2 separate regions of the Homo sapiens genome follow, and region 2 is linked to region 1. The links come from fine-mapping of genetic effects on gene expression. A gene starts in region 1. The other region holds a variant in brackets. All regions are shown on one strand. Distances are between the middles of the regions.

The links.
Region 2: its variant is fine-mapped to the expression of COQ5 in whole blood (INTERVAL, PIP 0.96).

Annotation. Positions count from the first base shown.
Region 1 is chr12:120,524,676-120,533,006 of GRCh38, forward strand. It overlaps COQ5 (coenzyme Q5, methyltransferase), which reads right to left and starts at 4,483. Exons shown (of 7, transcript NM_032314.4): 1 at 4,265-4,483. The coding sequence starts at 4,466. RefSeq lists enhancers at 3,473-4,243, 4,244-5,013, 4,360-4,819.
Region 2 is chr12:120,559,441-120,567,771 of GRCh38, forward strand. It overlaps RNF10 (ring finger protein 10), which reads left to right. Exons shown (of 17, transcript NM_014868.5): 7 at 1,286-1,446; 8 at 3,505-3,630; 9 at 3,907-4,183; 10 at 4,370-4,503; 11 at 5,632-5,749; 12 at 5,988-6,089; 13 at 7,385-7,540. Among named protein-coding and RNA genes, the nearest start is that of POP5, 18 kb to the right of the region's middle. The variant G/A (reference allele first, on the strand shown) is at 3,603.

The DNA.
Region 1 (8,331 bases):
CTTTGAGTTCCTCAGATGAAATGTGCTACACAGATTGAAAACATGACTCTCTTCTGCTGAATCAGACTACAGAGCCCGCCTTTAACTCAAACTTCAACGCCTATTCTCAACCTTCGGATTTCCAAGTGCGCTCTTTCCTTTTTTTTTTTTAAATTTTTTTTGGGACGGAGTCTTGCTCTGTCACCCAGGCTGGAGTGCAGTGGCGTGATCTTGGCTCACTGTAACCTCCGCCTCCCGGCAATTCTCCTGGCTCAGCCTCCCAAGTAGCTGGGACTACAGGCACGTGCCACCATGCCCAGCTAATCTGTTGTATTTTTAGTAGAGATGGGGTTTCACTGCTAGCCAGGATAGTCTCGATCTCCTAACCTCAGATCTGCCCGCCTTGGCTTCCCAAAGTGTTAGGATCACAGGTGTGAGCCACCGTGCCCGGACTTTTGTTTTTGAGACGGCGTCTAGCTCTGTCGCCCAGGCTGGGGTACAGTGGCGCAATCTCGGCTCACTGCAACCTCCTCCTTCTAGGTTCAAGTGATTCTCCTGCCTCAGCCTCCCGAATAGCTACGATTACAGGCACTTGCCACCATGCCTGGCTAATTTTTGTATTTTTAGTAGAGATGGGGTTTCACCATGTTGGCCAGCTGGTCTCAAACTCCTGACCTCATGATCTGCCCACCTCAGCCTCCCAAAGTACTGGGATTACAGGCGTGAGCCACCACGCCCAGCCTGCTCTTTTGAGCATCTTTTGGGGTGTCTGGGGGACACTAAGGCTAACCCCACTCGGTATAAATAGTCCTCCTTGCTGGCATGGTGGCACACACCTGGAGTGCCAGCTACTCGGGGGGCTAATGGGAGAGGACTGCTTGAACCCAGGAGTTCAAGGCTGCAGTGTGCTATGATTGTGCCTGTGAATAGACATTGTACCCCAGCCTGGGCAGCATAGTGAGAACTTGTCTCAAAAATAAATAAACAAGGCTGGGCGCAGTGGCTCATGCCTATAATCCCAGAACTTTGGGAGGCTGAGGCGGGGGGATCACGAGGTCCAGAGATCGAGACCATCCTAGCTAACACAGTGAAACTCCATCTCTACTAAAAATACAAAAAAACTAGCTGGGCGTGGTGGTGGGCGCCTGTAGTCCCAGCTACTCGGGAGGCTGAGGCAGGAGAATGGCATGAACCTGGGAGGCGGAGCTTACAGTGAGCTGAGATCGTGCCACCGCACTCCAGCCTGGGCGACAGAGCGAGACTCCATCTCCAAAAAAATAAATATAAATAAATAAATAAATAAGCAAATAGTCCTGGCTTTGCATGTTCCAATATGCATGAATTTCAGTTACTGTGGTTTAGCTAAACAACACCAGTCACCCAATACCACAATTCAAGTACAATGGTATATTAAATATGAGTAATTACATAAAATACATTCTTTAGCCTACAAATCACTATGTAAATAACAGATACACAACATGTTCAGCAACCAATCACGCACTTCTTTCCCAGACTTTAGGTGACTGGTCACTGCATCAGTTACTCAGTTCACAGACAGTAAAGCATGTACTTGTATTGCCTCTTTATCTTTCAGTGATAAAGCACACGTGGCATAACTGGATAAATGAAAGAGGGAATTGAGCAACAAAAATGAAAATGCTGATAATGCTGGAAGTGAAATTCAAATTGAGTGTCAGTGGAGTTATAGGAGAAATAGATGACTGTGGGAATATTGACACTGCTGCCACTGGAGAGACTCTAGACATACAGCCAGAGGAACTGCAGGAAGATGAACTTACCAACATGAACAAGAAATGGAGCTGTGACAAAAAGGTTGAAGATGTCCCAGAAGAAGTGATGCCAGCAAAAACTTTCACATTAAAGGAGTTCTTGGAGGTATTTCATAACATTGAAAGCACAAAGGATAAAATATCAGAAGTAGATAAAAACTTAGAAAGAAATATGGCAATTTGCCAAGGCATAGAAAAGATATTTCATACGACAAGAAGGTGGCAAATAGTGCTCAAACTACTCTTGGCAATTTTTTTTTTTTTTTTTTTTTTTTTTTTTTTTTTGAGACAGAGTCTTGCTCTGTCGCCCAGGCTGGAGTGTAGTGGCAGGATCTCGGCTCACTGCAAGCTCCTCCTCCCGGGTTCATGCCATTCTCCTGCCTCAGCCTCCGGAGTAGCTGGGACTACAGGCGCCCGCCACCATGCCCGGCTAATTTTTTTGTATTTTTAGTAGAGACGGAGTTTCACCGTGTTAGCCAGGATGGTCTCAATCTCCTGACCTCATGATCCACCCGCCTCGGCCTCTCAAAGTGCTGGGATTACAGGCGTGAGCCACTGCGCCCAGCCTACTCTTGGCAATTTTTTTACAAGGAAATAAAAGAATTTAATTCTCAAGGTTTCTAATTTTTTATTAGAATTTTTTTTCTTTGTTTTTGAGACAGTCTCACTGTGTCGCCCAGGCTAGAGTGCAGTGGCACAATCTCAGATCACTGCAACGTCCACCTCCCAGGTTCAAGAAATTTGCCTGCCTCAGCCTCCTAATTAGCTGTGATTACAGGCGTGCGTCACCATGCTTGGCTAATTTTTTTTGTATTTTTAGTAGAGATGAGGTTTCACCACGTTGGCCAGGCTGGTCTCGAACTCCTGACTTCAAGTGCCTACCTCGGCCTCCCAAAGTGCTGGGATTACAGGTGTGAACCATCGCACCTGGCTGTAAATAAATATCAACTTCAGTATATATTTTTTCATTTCACTATACATTTATAACTGACAGGGTTTTTGATGGTTGATAATTTTTAAAGGTCATAAAACAATTCTAATTTTTCCCATTGATTAAGGTCATTGTGTATGACTTCAGCTTGCACATTTTCACAGTCTTGCATTACTGTGCACAGCGAGGACTGTCTGTACTGCAATCTCAGTCCCCAATCTGGAATTCATATTTAGTTCAGTAGTTAACTTCTTCCTTGCTTGCCACTGTGTGAAATGTTGATTATACATTGATTATACATTGTAAAATGTTGATTATACATTGGCCGGTGTGGTGGCTCATGCCTGTAATCCCAGCACTTTGGGAGGCCGAGGCAGGTGGATCACGAGGTCAGGAGATCCAGACCATCCTGGCTAACATGGTGAAACCCTGTCTGTACTAAAAAAAAAATACAAAAAATTAGCCGGGCATGGTGGCGGGCCCCTGTAGTCCCAGCTACTCGGGAGGCTGAGGCAGGAGAATGGCGTGAAGCCAGGAGGCGGAGCTTGCAGTGAGCCGAGATCGCGCCACTGCCTTCCAGCCTGGGGGTGACAGAGAGAGACTCAGTCTCAAAAAAAAAAAAAAAAAAAAAAAAAAAAAAAAAAGAAACCCCGTCTCTACTGAAAATACAAAAATTAGCAGGGCACAGTGGCAGATGCCTGTAATCCCAGCTACTCAGGAGGCTGAGGCAGGAGGATCGCTTGAACCTAGGAGGCTGAGGTTGCAGTGAGCCCATATTGCGCCATTGCACTCCAGCCTGGGCAACAAGAGCGAAACTCCGTCTCAAAATAAATAAATAAATAAATAAATAAATAAAAACAACCAAAAAAACCCCTATTTTTCTCTAGAGGTAAAGAACGGGGGCTTCAGACTCAGATTAAACTGGGTTTGAATACTGGTTCCGCCACTTACTGATATGTTCAACTGGGCAACTTCTTGCTTAACCTTTAAGTCTCAATTTCCTCACGTGTAATATGGTAATAACAATACCCACTACTGGAATGTTGAAAATGAGAATTGAAAATAATGTCTGTACGTTGCCTGGCACATCACAAACGCTCAGTTGATGGGATTTAGTCATCAGTATTCTGCTTTTAAAAAGGGGGCGTCTGGCTGGGCGCGGTGGCTCACGCCTGTAATCCCAGCACTTTGGGAGGCCGAGGCAGGCGAATCACCTGAGGTCAGGAGTTCGAGACCAGCCTGGTGAAACCCCATCTCTAGTAAGAATACAAAAAAGTTAGCCGGGCGTGCTGGCGGGCGCCTGTAATCCCAGCTACTCGGGAAGCTGAGGCAGGAGAATCGCTTGAACCCGGGAGGCGGAGGTTGCAGTGAGCCAAGATCGGACCATTGCACTCCAGTGTGGGCAACAAGAGCGAAATTCTGTCTCCAAAAAAAAAAAAAATCATAACTGCACAGACAACAACACTGGAACTAATTGGATGTTAAATCAACCCTAACTGGCCAGAAGAAACCAGACCATGGACGGTCAGATCCCTCCCATCCGCCCTCTCGCCCCTTTCACCTTTGCCCCCCTTCTCCTCTTCCGACACAGTCTCAAACCCAAAGTGCGTTTCCGCTGCCCGCTTCTCTTGGGACAAGAGCCGAGCACTTAGTAGGTCCCCGGGCCAAGAGCTACGAAGCCCGAGGAGCTGGCAGCCCCGCATCGCCCGCGACCACCCACGGCCGCAATAGCTCCATAGAGCACAGCTCCCGGGGGCCGCCATCTTGGTAGTCGAGTGACAACGGCCAGAGAGTACGCCTTGTTGCGTCACTCCACGAACGACGGCGGCTGGCCGGCAACATTATTAGCCGAACGCGCCCTGAAATCTGATACACAGTTGTGCCGGCATTATCTCTAGGATCCAAAGGGTGGTCTCTAAGTATCGGAAATCCCTTCCTCTCTCTCTTCTCAAATTGAATTTACAATTCACCAGGAATCAGGGGATCTCAGGGGAGCCCCGGGTCACCTCTTAGCGGCCATGTCTCTGAATCCGGCTAGGCAGAAAAGTACTAACTCGCAAGATATCCAGGAACTCTTGTTGTCTTGTGCAGAAGGGGGAAATTGAGGCATGGTGTGGTTAAAAAGCCAAGATCACGGGCCAATTCCTGCACACTTTGTTGAGCGTAAGAATCACTTGGTTTACGTTTTAAAATGAAGATTCCTGGGTCCCCAACTACCAGAGATTTTGATCTGACCTATATCCCTTTAATCTCTATTTAAACAAATTTCTCTGGCGATTCTGATGCTAAAGATGCAGACCATTCTTGAGAAACATATGTTACACTACTCTGAAAAATAAACATAGGACAGACTTCTTTGTTCTGTCCGTTTTATGAACCTAGGAAGCTCATAAATGGGAACGAAAGCTCTGGTATCCACTTAGCAAGCCAGAACCACCACTCACACTTGGTCTCCTGCTGACACAAAGCTACATTCCTAGCTCCAGGTGGCATGTCATGGGTGTTTTACTTCAGCCCCAGATTTTCAGTCTTTTTTTAATGGCAAGGGTAATGCAGACCGTCTTGTGCAAAATAAAGAACGGACGTTGTTGAGTTTTGCTTGGATTACTGTATGTTTCTGCTTTCATTCCATTTTAAATGTATGTTTCCTGTAAATATTTCACGAGGAGAAAGCGCCAATAGAAGAAACTGTTTTGAAATGAAAATTCTCTTCCTGGTTTAATATAGCCTGACAGATGGACACCTAACCGCTTTCGTTTGGGAAGTACTGCGCTGGGATTTCTGTTTCTTTCTCTTTTATTTTAAGAATGATAGAAGGTCCTCGTTGGTATAGTGATGAGAAAAAAAAAAGGAAGGATACAAGGGCGAAATGATTCATCCATGTATTCATAATTCTCATGTCTTTGTTAAAAGAAATTAAGTGGCTGGGTGCGGTGGCTCACGCCTGTAATCCCAACACTTTGGGAGCCCGAGGTGGGCGGATTGCATGAGGTCAGGAGTTCGAGACCAGCATGGCTAACATGGTGAAACCCCGTCTCTACTAAAATACAAAAATCAGCCAGGCATGGTGGTGCACACCTGTAGTCCCAGCTATTCAGGAGGTTGAAGCAGGAGAATCCCTTCAACCCAGGAGTCACTGGTTGCAGTGAGCTGAGATTGCACCACTGCACTCAAGCCTGGGTGACAGAGCCAGACTCCATCTCAAAAATAAATAAATAAATAAATAAATAAATAAATAAAGTCTCATCAAAGAATCTTATATCTTCCATATCTAGTTATATAAAAGAATGGATCTCAGGATTTAGGGCTGTTCCTTCTGCACATCAGATTAAGTATCCAGACCAACAGTATTTCACTGTTCTCTTATTTCATATGATATGTGGAGGAAAACCTGTAAAAAGTGAAGTAGGACAAGGACTGTTGGAAGGTATTTTTTTTTTGAGGTAGCGTCTTGCTCTGTTGCCCAGACTGGAGTGCAGTGGCATGACTTCGGCTCACTGCAACCTCTGTCTTCTGGGTTCAAGTGATCCTCCTGCCTCAGCTTCCCTAGTAGCTGGGATTACAGGCATGCGCCACCATGCCAGGCTAATTTTTGTATTTTTAGTAGAGATGGGGTTTCGCTATATTGGCCAGGCTGGTCTTGAACTCCTGACTTCAGGTAATCCACCTGCCTCAGCCTCCCAAAGTGCTGAGCCACCACTCCCGGCGCTAATTTTTGTATTTTTAGTAGAGATGGGGTTTCACCATTTTGGCTAGGCTGGTCTTATTTACTTATTTATTGATTCATTCTTTATTTTGAAATAGGATCTCACTTTGTCACCCAGGGTGGAGTGCAGTGGCACAATCATAGCTCACTTCTCACCCTCCCAGGCTCAAGCCATCCTCCCACCTCAACCTCCTGAGTAGCTGGGACTACAGGTGTGCACCACCACACTGGGCTGATTTTTGCATTTTTTGTTGAGACAGGGTTTTGCCATGTTGCCCTGAATGGTCTTGAACTCCTGGGCTTGGGCAATCTGCCTACCTCAATCTCCCAAAGTGCTGGGATTATAGGCGTGAGCAACCGCACCTGGCCCTGGTCATTTCCTTAATAGCATGTCTATGTGATCTTTTGAATCTCAAACTACTATGGTTGGAAGGGAATCATTTGTAATTTTCCAAAGTACAAATAGGTGTGGTATGATTCCCAAAGTCTTAGCGTCTATATCTGTAAACCATATGTTTTTGTTTTTTGTTTTTTAATTTTTAGTAGAGAATTGGTTTCACTATGTTCAGGCTGGTCTCAAACTCCTAACATCAAGTGATCTTCCTGCCTCAGCCTCCCAGAATGTTGGGATTGAGCTACCTTGCCTGGCCACATACATGATTTTCCTTTTTTTTTCTTTTTTTTTTTTTTTGAGACAGAGTCTCGCTCTGTCACCCAGGCTGGAGTGCAGTGGCCCAATCTCAGCTCACTGCAACCTCCGCCTCCCAGGTTCAAGCGATTGTCCTCCCTCAACCTCCCAAGTAGCTGGGACTACAGGTGTGCGCCACCACGCCCGGCTAATTGTTGTATTTTTAGGAGAGACGGGGTTTCACTGTATTGGTCAGGCTGGTCTCGAAATCCTGACCTCGTGATCTGCCCGCCTCGAACTCCCAAAAAGTGCTGGGATTACAGGCCTCCCAAAAAGTGCTGGGATTACAGGCCTCCCAAAAAGTGCTGGGATTACATTGCACCTGACCCACATACATTATTTTCTTTCTTCTTTTTTTTTTTGAGATGGAGTCTCGCTCTGTTGCCCAGGCTGGAATACAGTGGTGCAGTCTTGGCTCACTGCAACCTGTGCCTTCTGGGTTCAAGTGATTCTCCTGCCTCAGCCTCCTCAGTAGCTGAGATTACAGGTGCGCACCACCACGCCTGGCTAATTTTTTTGTATTTTTAGTAGAGACGGGGTTTCACTATGTTGGTCAGGCTGGTCTCGATCTCCTGACCTGTTGATCCACCCGGCTTGGCCTCCCAAAGTGCTGGGGTTACAGGTGTGAGCCACCGTGCCCGGCCCCATATGCATGATTTTCTAAATCTCAGTCTGTATCTGTAAAATGAGGAACTGCTTGTCTCATAGGTAAGAACATCACTTGTTAGCTATGTGATAATAGGCAAATTATCTGGACTTTTGGAGTCCATTTACTCATCTTTAAATTTTATTTATTTAGGGACAGAGTCTTGTTGTGTTACCCAGGCTGGATTCATACTCTTGGGCTCAAGTGATCATCCCTCCTCAGCCTCCTGAGTAGCTGGGACTACAGGCACACTTAGTCTAAAATTTAGTTATTGAGAAGATTAAATGTGATAATGTTAACAGCTGTTAAATACAATTTATAGGAGCCCATTGTTTTGCACTGAGCTTCAGCACAGTAGACCAAACCAAAACAGAGTTACTCAAGGTGAATTTCTACCCAACCACGCCTAAACGAAATTGTTTATCTGACCTTCTGAGAAATCATCAAATCCCCAAACTGGTCAGTTTTACCCCACATAAGGAAGTCCATTCTGCTTAAACCTTTACAAGAAAAGTAATTTTGAAATGACTAATCTGCTTTTTGTTCTCTGTTTCTACTTTTTAAAAAAAAGTTTAGACAGGGTCTCCC
Region 2 (8,331 bases), 35 kb after region 1:
GTGGTGCAATCCCGGCTCACTGCAATCTCCGCCTCCCAGGTTCAAGAGATTCTCCTGCCTCAGCGTCCTGAGTAGCTGAGATTACAGGCACGCACCACCACACCTGGCTAGTTTTTGTATTTTTAGTAGAGACGGGGTTTCACCATGTTGGCCAGCATGGTCTCAATCTCTTGATCTTGTGATCCGCCTACCTCAGCCTCCCAAAGTGCTGGGATTACAGGTGTGAGCCACCGTACTCCGCCTGGTGTTATTTTTTTTTAATTTTATTTTTTGAGGCAGAGTTTTGCACTTGTTGCCCAGGCTGGAGTGCAATGGTGCGATCTTGGCTCACTGAAACCTCTGCCTCCTGGGTTCAAGCGATTTTCTTACTCCAGCCTCCCTAGTAGCTGGGATTATAGGCGCCCGTCACCACGCCCAGCTAATTTTTTGTATTTTTAATAGAAACAGGGTATCTCTATGTTGGCCAGGCTGGTTTCGAACTCCTAACTTCAGGTGATCCACCTGCCTCAGCCTCCCAAAGTGCTGAACGTGAGCCACCACACCCAGCTGGCTTGGTCTTAAACTTCTAAACTCAAGCAATCTTCCTGTCTTGGCCTCTCAAAGTACTGGGATTATAGGTGTGAGCCACTGCGCTGGTCCACCATTTCTTTATTCTTTATTGTTGGTTTTACTGGTTGGTTTGAGCTTTTCTTTTTCTGTGTGTGGTTTTTTTTGTTTTTTTTTTTTTTGAGACAGAGTTTCGCTTTTGTTGCCCAAGCTGGAATGCAGTGGCATGATCTTGGCTCACTGCGACCTCTGCCTCCTGGGTTCAAGCGATTCTCCTGCCTCAGCCTCCCAAGTAGCTGGGATTACAGGCATGCCCTACCAGGCCCGACTAACTTTTTTGTATCTTTAGTAGAGACGGGGTTTCACCATGTTGGTCAGGCTGGTCTCGAACTCTTGATCTCAAGTGATCCACCCGCCTTGACCTCCCAAAGTGCTGGGATTACAGGTGTGAGCCATGGTGCCTGGCTGGTTTGAGCTTTTCTGATATTACATACAATGCTGTAACAATAAACGCGTGACTAAAGTTTTGACTACATCTCTGGGTTTCTTAGATTTCTTATATCAAGAGCAGAGCTACAGACCTTATTTTAAGACCATTGTTAAATTATTTTCTAGGAAATCATGCTAAATTACCCCATTTTCACCCCAGAGAAAAGGCTGTATTTGAAAATTCCTATTTAGCTACACCATCGTGAGCTTTGAATGTTGCATTTCTTTGATCTTGCTGGCATTCTTATAGATGAACAGCACAGCCAGTACTCCAAGTTGCTGCTGGCCTCTAAGGAGCAGGTGCTGCACCGGGTAGTTCTGGAGGAGAAAGTAGCACTAGAGCAGCAGCTGGCAGAGGAGAAGCACACTCCCGAGTCCTGCTTTATTGAGGCAGCTATCCAGGAGCTCAAGGTGAGAGGATGCATTGGAGATGCTAAACCTTTTCACTTTCTCGGCGTTCTGTGGTGAAAACCAGAAATGCTAAACCTTTTCACTCTGTCGGGGGTGAGATGATGGACGCTGGGGATTAAGTTAGTTCCATTCCACATTTAAGACAATAAGCAGAGAATGGCTAAAAAAGCCAATTTGTTTTGGGCTTTGTTTGATGACAGTAGAGAAGGTTTAACCTAGGGCTTTTAAAGCTCTTTCTAGAGCTGAAAGGAGCAAGTCAAAATGATTTTATAACTAATTGTGACAGTGGAGTTTTTTAGATTAGCTATGTTCTTAAAGCAAGTTAGAGTTCTTTGTTTTCTGGGAAAATACTTAAGATTCTATTCTAGAGGTGTTTTGAAAGACATTGTGGAGAAAGTATTATGGCCTGCCCAGTATGCCTTAGGAGTACCTGAAACGGCAAGAATTACACAAGAACAGAATTCCCTGGGTCTTTTATCTTCCACAACAGAGATTCTTGAAGCATCACAACCACTGGTTGTTAGGTCCCACTTTGAGATATTGATTGCATAGGTTAAGCTCAGTAGGCTCAGTAATTTGCATATAACAAGTTCTAGGGTGATTCTGATGGCTGCTCATCCCCAGACCACACTCCTGGAACCACTGATCTAGCTTAGAGCAATAGAAGCCCATATTTATTGAGTGATCAGCATTTGATAGGACTTGTGCTATACACATTTATCTCACTTAAGCTTCTAGTGTGGTAGATAGAACTATCCCCTTTCATGGATGAGGAAACTGAATCCTGGGTTGGGTAATTTGCTAGTAAGGGATGCAGCTGGTATTTGAATTCCCTTCTCCCTGACTCCCAAGGGCTCCTTGGGTAGAGTCCTGTGTATTTAACTTTTGCTTTCTTTCTATAATACGTTGCAGCCGTATTTGTTCAAATGCCATTACAGGCATAAGAAAGGCTACATAGAATTAGAGCTGTCCAGGCTGAGGTGGAGTTAGCTAAATCCTTCCTACTACTCTGGACCTCTGTCTGAGCATAGTTTGTAAAAACTAGGTTAGTTTCATGTTCTTAGATTTCTGTTCTGGAAGTTTTTTGTATAGTGTTGTTTGTGTCAGATTCTCTTTTATTTTTTTTAACTTTTAAGTTCAGGGGTACAAATGCAGGTTGTTACATGGTAAACCTGTGTCATGGGGGTTTGTTATACAGATTTTCACCCAGGTATTAAGCTTAGTACCCATTGGTTATTTTTCCTGATCCCCTCCCTCCTCCCACTCTCCACCCTCTGATAGGCCTCAGTGTGTGTTCCCCTCTATGTGTCCATGTTTCATCATTTAGCTCCCACTTAGAAGTGAGAACATGTGTGCGATATTTGGTTTTTCTTTTTCTTTCTTTCTTTTTTTTTTTTTTTTTTTTGAGACAGAGTTTTGCTCTCGTTGCCCAGGCTGGAGTGCAGTGGCGTGATCTCGGCTCATCACAACCTCTGCCTCCAAGGTTCAAGTGATTCTCCTGCCTCAGCCTCCTGAGTAGCAGGAATTACAGGCATGCCCCACCATGCCTGGGTTATTTTGTATTTTTAGTAGAGATGGGGTTTCTCCATGTTGGTCAGGGTGGTCTTGAACTTCCAACCTCAGGTGATCCGCCCACCTCAGTCTCCCAAAGTGCTGGGATTACAGGCATGAGCCACCACACCTGGCCGTATGTGTCTTTACAGTAGAATGATTTATATTCCTTTGGCTATATACCCAGTAATGGGATTGCTGGGTGAAATTTTATTTCTGTCTTTAGGTCTTTGAGGAATCACCACACTGTCTTCCACAATGATTGAACTAATTTACACTCCCCAGTGTCAGATTCTAAGCAGATTCCAATCCTTAGTGGGTATTGCATGCTTTTTGCTTCCTGTTTCCCTCAAAGTTGAGATATTTAAGCACCTAATTCCTTCCCATTGGGTCTCATTGCCTTTTAACTTTTGGTCCTGTTGAGAGGCCATTCTAAGCCCTTGCCCTTCAAGCTAAGTGTGTGTCTGGAAACTTAACCTTCTCTGGTGTTCTCTCTGGCCACGTTAGACTCGGGAAGAGGCTCTGTCGGGATTGGCCGGAAGCAGAAGGGAGGTCACTGGTGTTGTGGCTGCTCTGGAACAACTGGTGCTGATGGCTCCCTTGGC[G/A]AAGGAGTCTGTTTTTCAACCCAGGAAGGTTAGTGTGTTCCTGTTACTAAGTGGCTGCCGTTCCTCAAATGCTGTCATTGAGCTGGTAGGCATTACTGTGAGATCTAAACCTTCTCAAGAGAAGAGGGGACAATGAGTATTTTCTGTATGCTTGTTATTAGTTCTTTCCCCAGGGGTGTTAAATCAGTGAACACGACAGCTAAGATAAACATCTAGGGAGCTTGGCTCTTAGGTCTGCATTTGCCACATTGCTTTCGGAAAGCAGGAGATATCCTTTCTGTTGACTTAGAGTTTGCTGCAACAGGGTGTGCTGGAGTATCTGTCTGCCTTCGATGAAGAAACCACGGAAGTTTGTTCTCTGGACACTCCTTCTAGACCTCTTGCTCTCCCTCTGGTAGAAGAGGAGGAAGCAGTGTCTGAACCAGAGCCTGAGGGGTTGCCAGAGGCCTGTGATGACTTGGAGTTAGCAGATGACAATCTTAAAGAGGGGACCATTTGCACTGAGTCCAGCCAGCAGGAACCCATCACCAAGTCAGGCTTCACACGCCTCAGCAGCTCTCCTTGTTACTACTTTTACCAAGGTGAGGGTGCCGGAAGAGAGGGCTGGGTTGCCGCAGAGGTGTTTCAGAGGTGACCCGGTGCTCTAAGCAGAGGAGCGCCACTAGATCCTGTGGCTTGGGTGGCTTGAGCCCTTGGGCATGGGGAGGGGTGGGGAGCCTCCTGGGGACTGGCCAAGACTGGTGTGTGATAGAGCCCCTTGTCCTCAGCGGAAGATGGACAGCATATGTTCCTGCACCCTGTGAATGTGCGCTGCCTCGTGCGGGAGTACGGCAGCCTGGAGAGGAGCCCCGAGAAGATCTCAGCAACTGTGGTGGAGATTGCTGGCTACTCCATGTCTGAGGTGAGGCCTTCCTGTAGAAATGGAGGGTCAGGCAGCAGTATTAACCTAATCTCTTTGAGGTAGGCCTAGCCATCCTAAGTTCACAAACCTTCAAGGCCTTTAGTTTTTGTATTTTTAGTCTTTCTGTCAGTGATGGTGCTGTGAATTCTTTGTAAGTGAAGTGTCCCCTCAGCATGCCAGGGTTCTGTTAAATCAGTTAATGCTGTTCCCTGCTTCTCTGGTTCATTGATTGTAGTTTGGGGATATAGATATTTCTTTTATTTAAGATGGAGTTTATTTTTGTTTCTTATCCTCCTTATTGCTTGGGAGAAATGTCACAAATTTGTTGTAAGATTTAAAATTAGACTCTTTGAGTACTATAAATTTTTCATCAAACATATGCAGAAAAAGAATAGAAATGAAAATAAATGGGCTGGATGTGGTAGCTCACACCTGTAATCCCAGCACTTTTGGGAGGCCTACTCAGGCAGATTGCTTGAGGCTAGGAGTTTCAGACCAGCCAGGGCATTTCTACAAAAAATACAAAAAAAAATTAGCTGGGTATGATGATGTGCACCTGTTGTCCCAGCTCCTCAGGAGGCTGAGGCAGAAGGATCACCTGAGCTGGGGAGATCAAGTCTGCAGTGAGCTGGCCTGGGCGGCAGAGCAAGACCATGTCTCAGAAAAAAAAAATTGGGCTTCATTTTCTACTATTTCAGGCCAAGTGTCTTTCAATAGGGAGATCTGCTTTATCTTCCTTCCCAGTTATTTATTCTGTCAGTGGTTCCCAGGTTTTTTTCTGTTCTGTTTTTCTGCCAACAAATAACTTTATCTTCTCTGTTCGTCCCCCTCAGCTGTGGGGCCTTGAAAAAATCAGAAACAGCTGATGGGCTTTAGATTATTTGTTGCTGGACTCAGTTCACTCCTTTGCAGTACAAACCAAAAATAACTGGATTTGGTTGCTTATTCCACCTTGCTGTAGGTTGACAGTTTCTCTTTGGCTTTTCAAAATGAGGATAATTGAGCACTACTGTTTCCAGCCCCAGTGCTGGCTGTGTTATGTATATATTGTTGGATATCGGGGTTAGGACCCCCTGCTTTCAGAGTTAGGCTTGCTTTTGTTGAGTATTGGTCCTTTTTCCAATGTAGGATGTTCGACAGCGTCACAGATATCTCTCTCACTTGCCACTCACCTGTGAGTTCAGCATCTGTGAACTGGCTTTGCAACCTCCTGTGGTCTCTAAGGAAACCCTAGAGATGTTCTCAGGTGAGAATGCCCCTGCTCTGCTTCTCTTTATAGTAGGGTTCAGGGATTCTTGTGGCTAGACACCCAGTGGGGGAGGAAACTTATGGAACTGTATCATGAGTCTTAGTACCTCCTAAACACTTCATCTGTTCATCTAGTCCAGCTGGGCCTACTGTTGTGGGTTTAGCTGCTAATACTGGGAGGAGGTAATGACCATGTTGTCCTGGGTCTACCTCTTTACAACCTGACCAATCTGCAGATGACATTGAGAAGAGGAAACGTCAGCGCCAAAAGAAGGCTCGGGAGGAACGCCGCCGAGAGCGCAGGATTGAGATAGAGGAGAACAAGAAACAGGGCAAGTGTAAGTTCAGGAACTTTCATCTTTGACTAGCACTGCTGTACGTCGTTGTATAGAACTCTGTGTCTGGGACCTGGGAGCCAGACCTTAGCCACTTGTTTTCTTCAACTTTTAAATGTGAATCATGAGAGCACCTCCTTAATAGGCTTGCTTGCAAATATAATGAGTTAATATGGGTCAAAGTGCCTAGCACATAGTAAGGATTAAGAGGAAATTCAGCCTTGGTAATAGTGGGTGATATACACCTGTTCCAGAGATGGGAATTGGGGCTTCGCTAAGAATGCTGGGGGCCATCGTTCCCCATGCTCTCTGGATCACTGACCTTACCTCTGACTCTTTATTAAAGGGACCAGCTATACACAGCAAGTCTGCCAGGTGGGTCTGATAAGATGGAAATTTTGATAGACTAGGAAATGCAGGAAGTTGGATTTAAGAGATCTTTCGTAGCAGTAAGCACAGCCTTTTGATCTGGTTCTCCAAAATAAGTTTCATTGAATCCAGGGGATTAGTGTGACCTGAGGTCCCATTATCCACTAGAACACAAGGAACTGAGTCCTTGGCCCAGAAAAGGACTTCGGTGTTTTGACTCCATATGGCATGGAAACATACATTTTATATCTCAAGTGGGACAAGTGTATACTTGGGGTCCCAACACCGTGTAGGTGTTTGGCACATGTCCTGAACTTTGAGAAAACTGATATTTCAGGAATAGGATTTTTTGTTTTCACCTTTTTATTATGGAAATATCAAGACAAGTAGAACAATGTAATTAACCTGCATGTTTGTTACCCAGCCTCAATTATGAATAGTTAGAACAAGGTTAACTATATTAAAGACATTATAGAAGGACAGTTATTGTAAATTTGGGTTTTAGCTTTTGTCTGCATCCTCTAGACCTTTGGGGGTACGCATGTGTGATGTCCTCAACTGTTGGAAACTATTTGAAAAATTCAGGCCAGGTGTGGTGGCTCACGTCTATAATCCCAACACTTTGGGAGGCCAAGGTGGGCAGATCACTTGAGCTCAGGAGTTCAAGACCAGGCTGGACAACATGGTGAAACCTCATCTCTTTAAAAATTCAAAAAATTAGCTAGGTGTGGTGGCACGTGCCTGTGGTCCCGGCTACTCGGGAGGCTGAGGTGGGAGGATCGCTTGAGCCTGGGAGGCAGAGGATGCAGTGAACAGAGATCGTACCACTACACTCCAGCCTGGGTGACAGAGTGAGACCCCATCTCAAAAAAAAAAAAAAAAAATTGAATTCTGTAAATGGGTTTACAAGGGTTATCTTTCCTTTGCAGACCCAGAAGTCCACATTCCCCTCGAGAATCTACAGCAGTTTCCTGCCTTCAATTCTTATACCTGCTCCTCTGATTCTGCTTTGGGTCCCACCAGCACCGAGGGCCATGGGGCCCTCTCCATTTCTCCTCTCAGCAGAAGTCCAGGTTCCCATGCAGGTAAACAGGTGAAATTTAATGAATTCACCCATCAGTTAGACCTTATGCAAAGCTTTGGTGTCTGAGTTTACAACCCCGGCCCACTCAGCATGGTGTGGACTTCAGGGGCATAACCTTACTTTGGTAGTCCTGAGGTACATCAAATTCTTTTATTCATCTTTCCCACTTGCTATACTGACTGCTTTACCCTGCCAGCTTCTAAGCACCTCAAGGAGCTCTTTAGGCAGGATAGTTGAAAATGGAGTCTTCCCTTTGACCCACCTATTTTTGTTTCTAGTTTTTGTTTGAGATACTCCCCTGTATGCCTAAACATCTTTGTACATGTCTCTTTATTGTAGCATCGTTTTAATAGCTCAAAAAAAAAAAACAGTTTAGAAAGCCTACCAATAAGAAAATGACTAAATTATAGTATTTATACTGTAAAATGTTTCACACCAGAAGGCCGGGCGTGGTGGCTTATGCCTGTAATCCCAGCACTTTGGGAGGCCAAGGCGGGTGGATCACGAGGTCAGGAATTCAAGACCAGCCTGACCAACACAGTGAAACCCTATCTCTACTGAAAATACAAAAATTAGCAGGGCATGGTGGCAGGCGCCTGTAGTCCCAGCTACTTGGGAGGCTGAGGCAACAGAATTGCTTGAACCTGGGAGGCGGAGGTCTCAGTGAGACAAGGTTGCGTCACTGCATTCCAGCCTGGGCGACAGAGCGAGACTTTGTCTCAAAAAAAAAAAAAAAAAATCACACCTGTTAAAGAAGGGAATGTAATTCTTCTATTCACGTACTAATGGGAA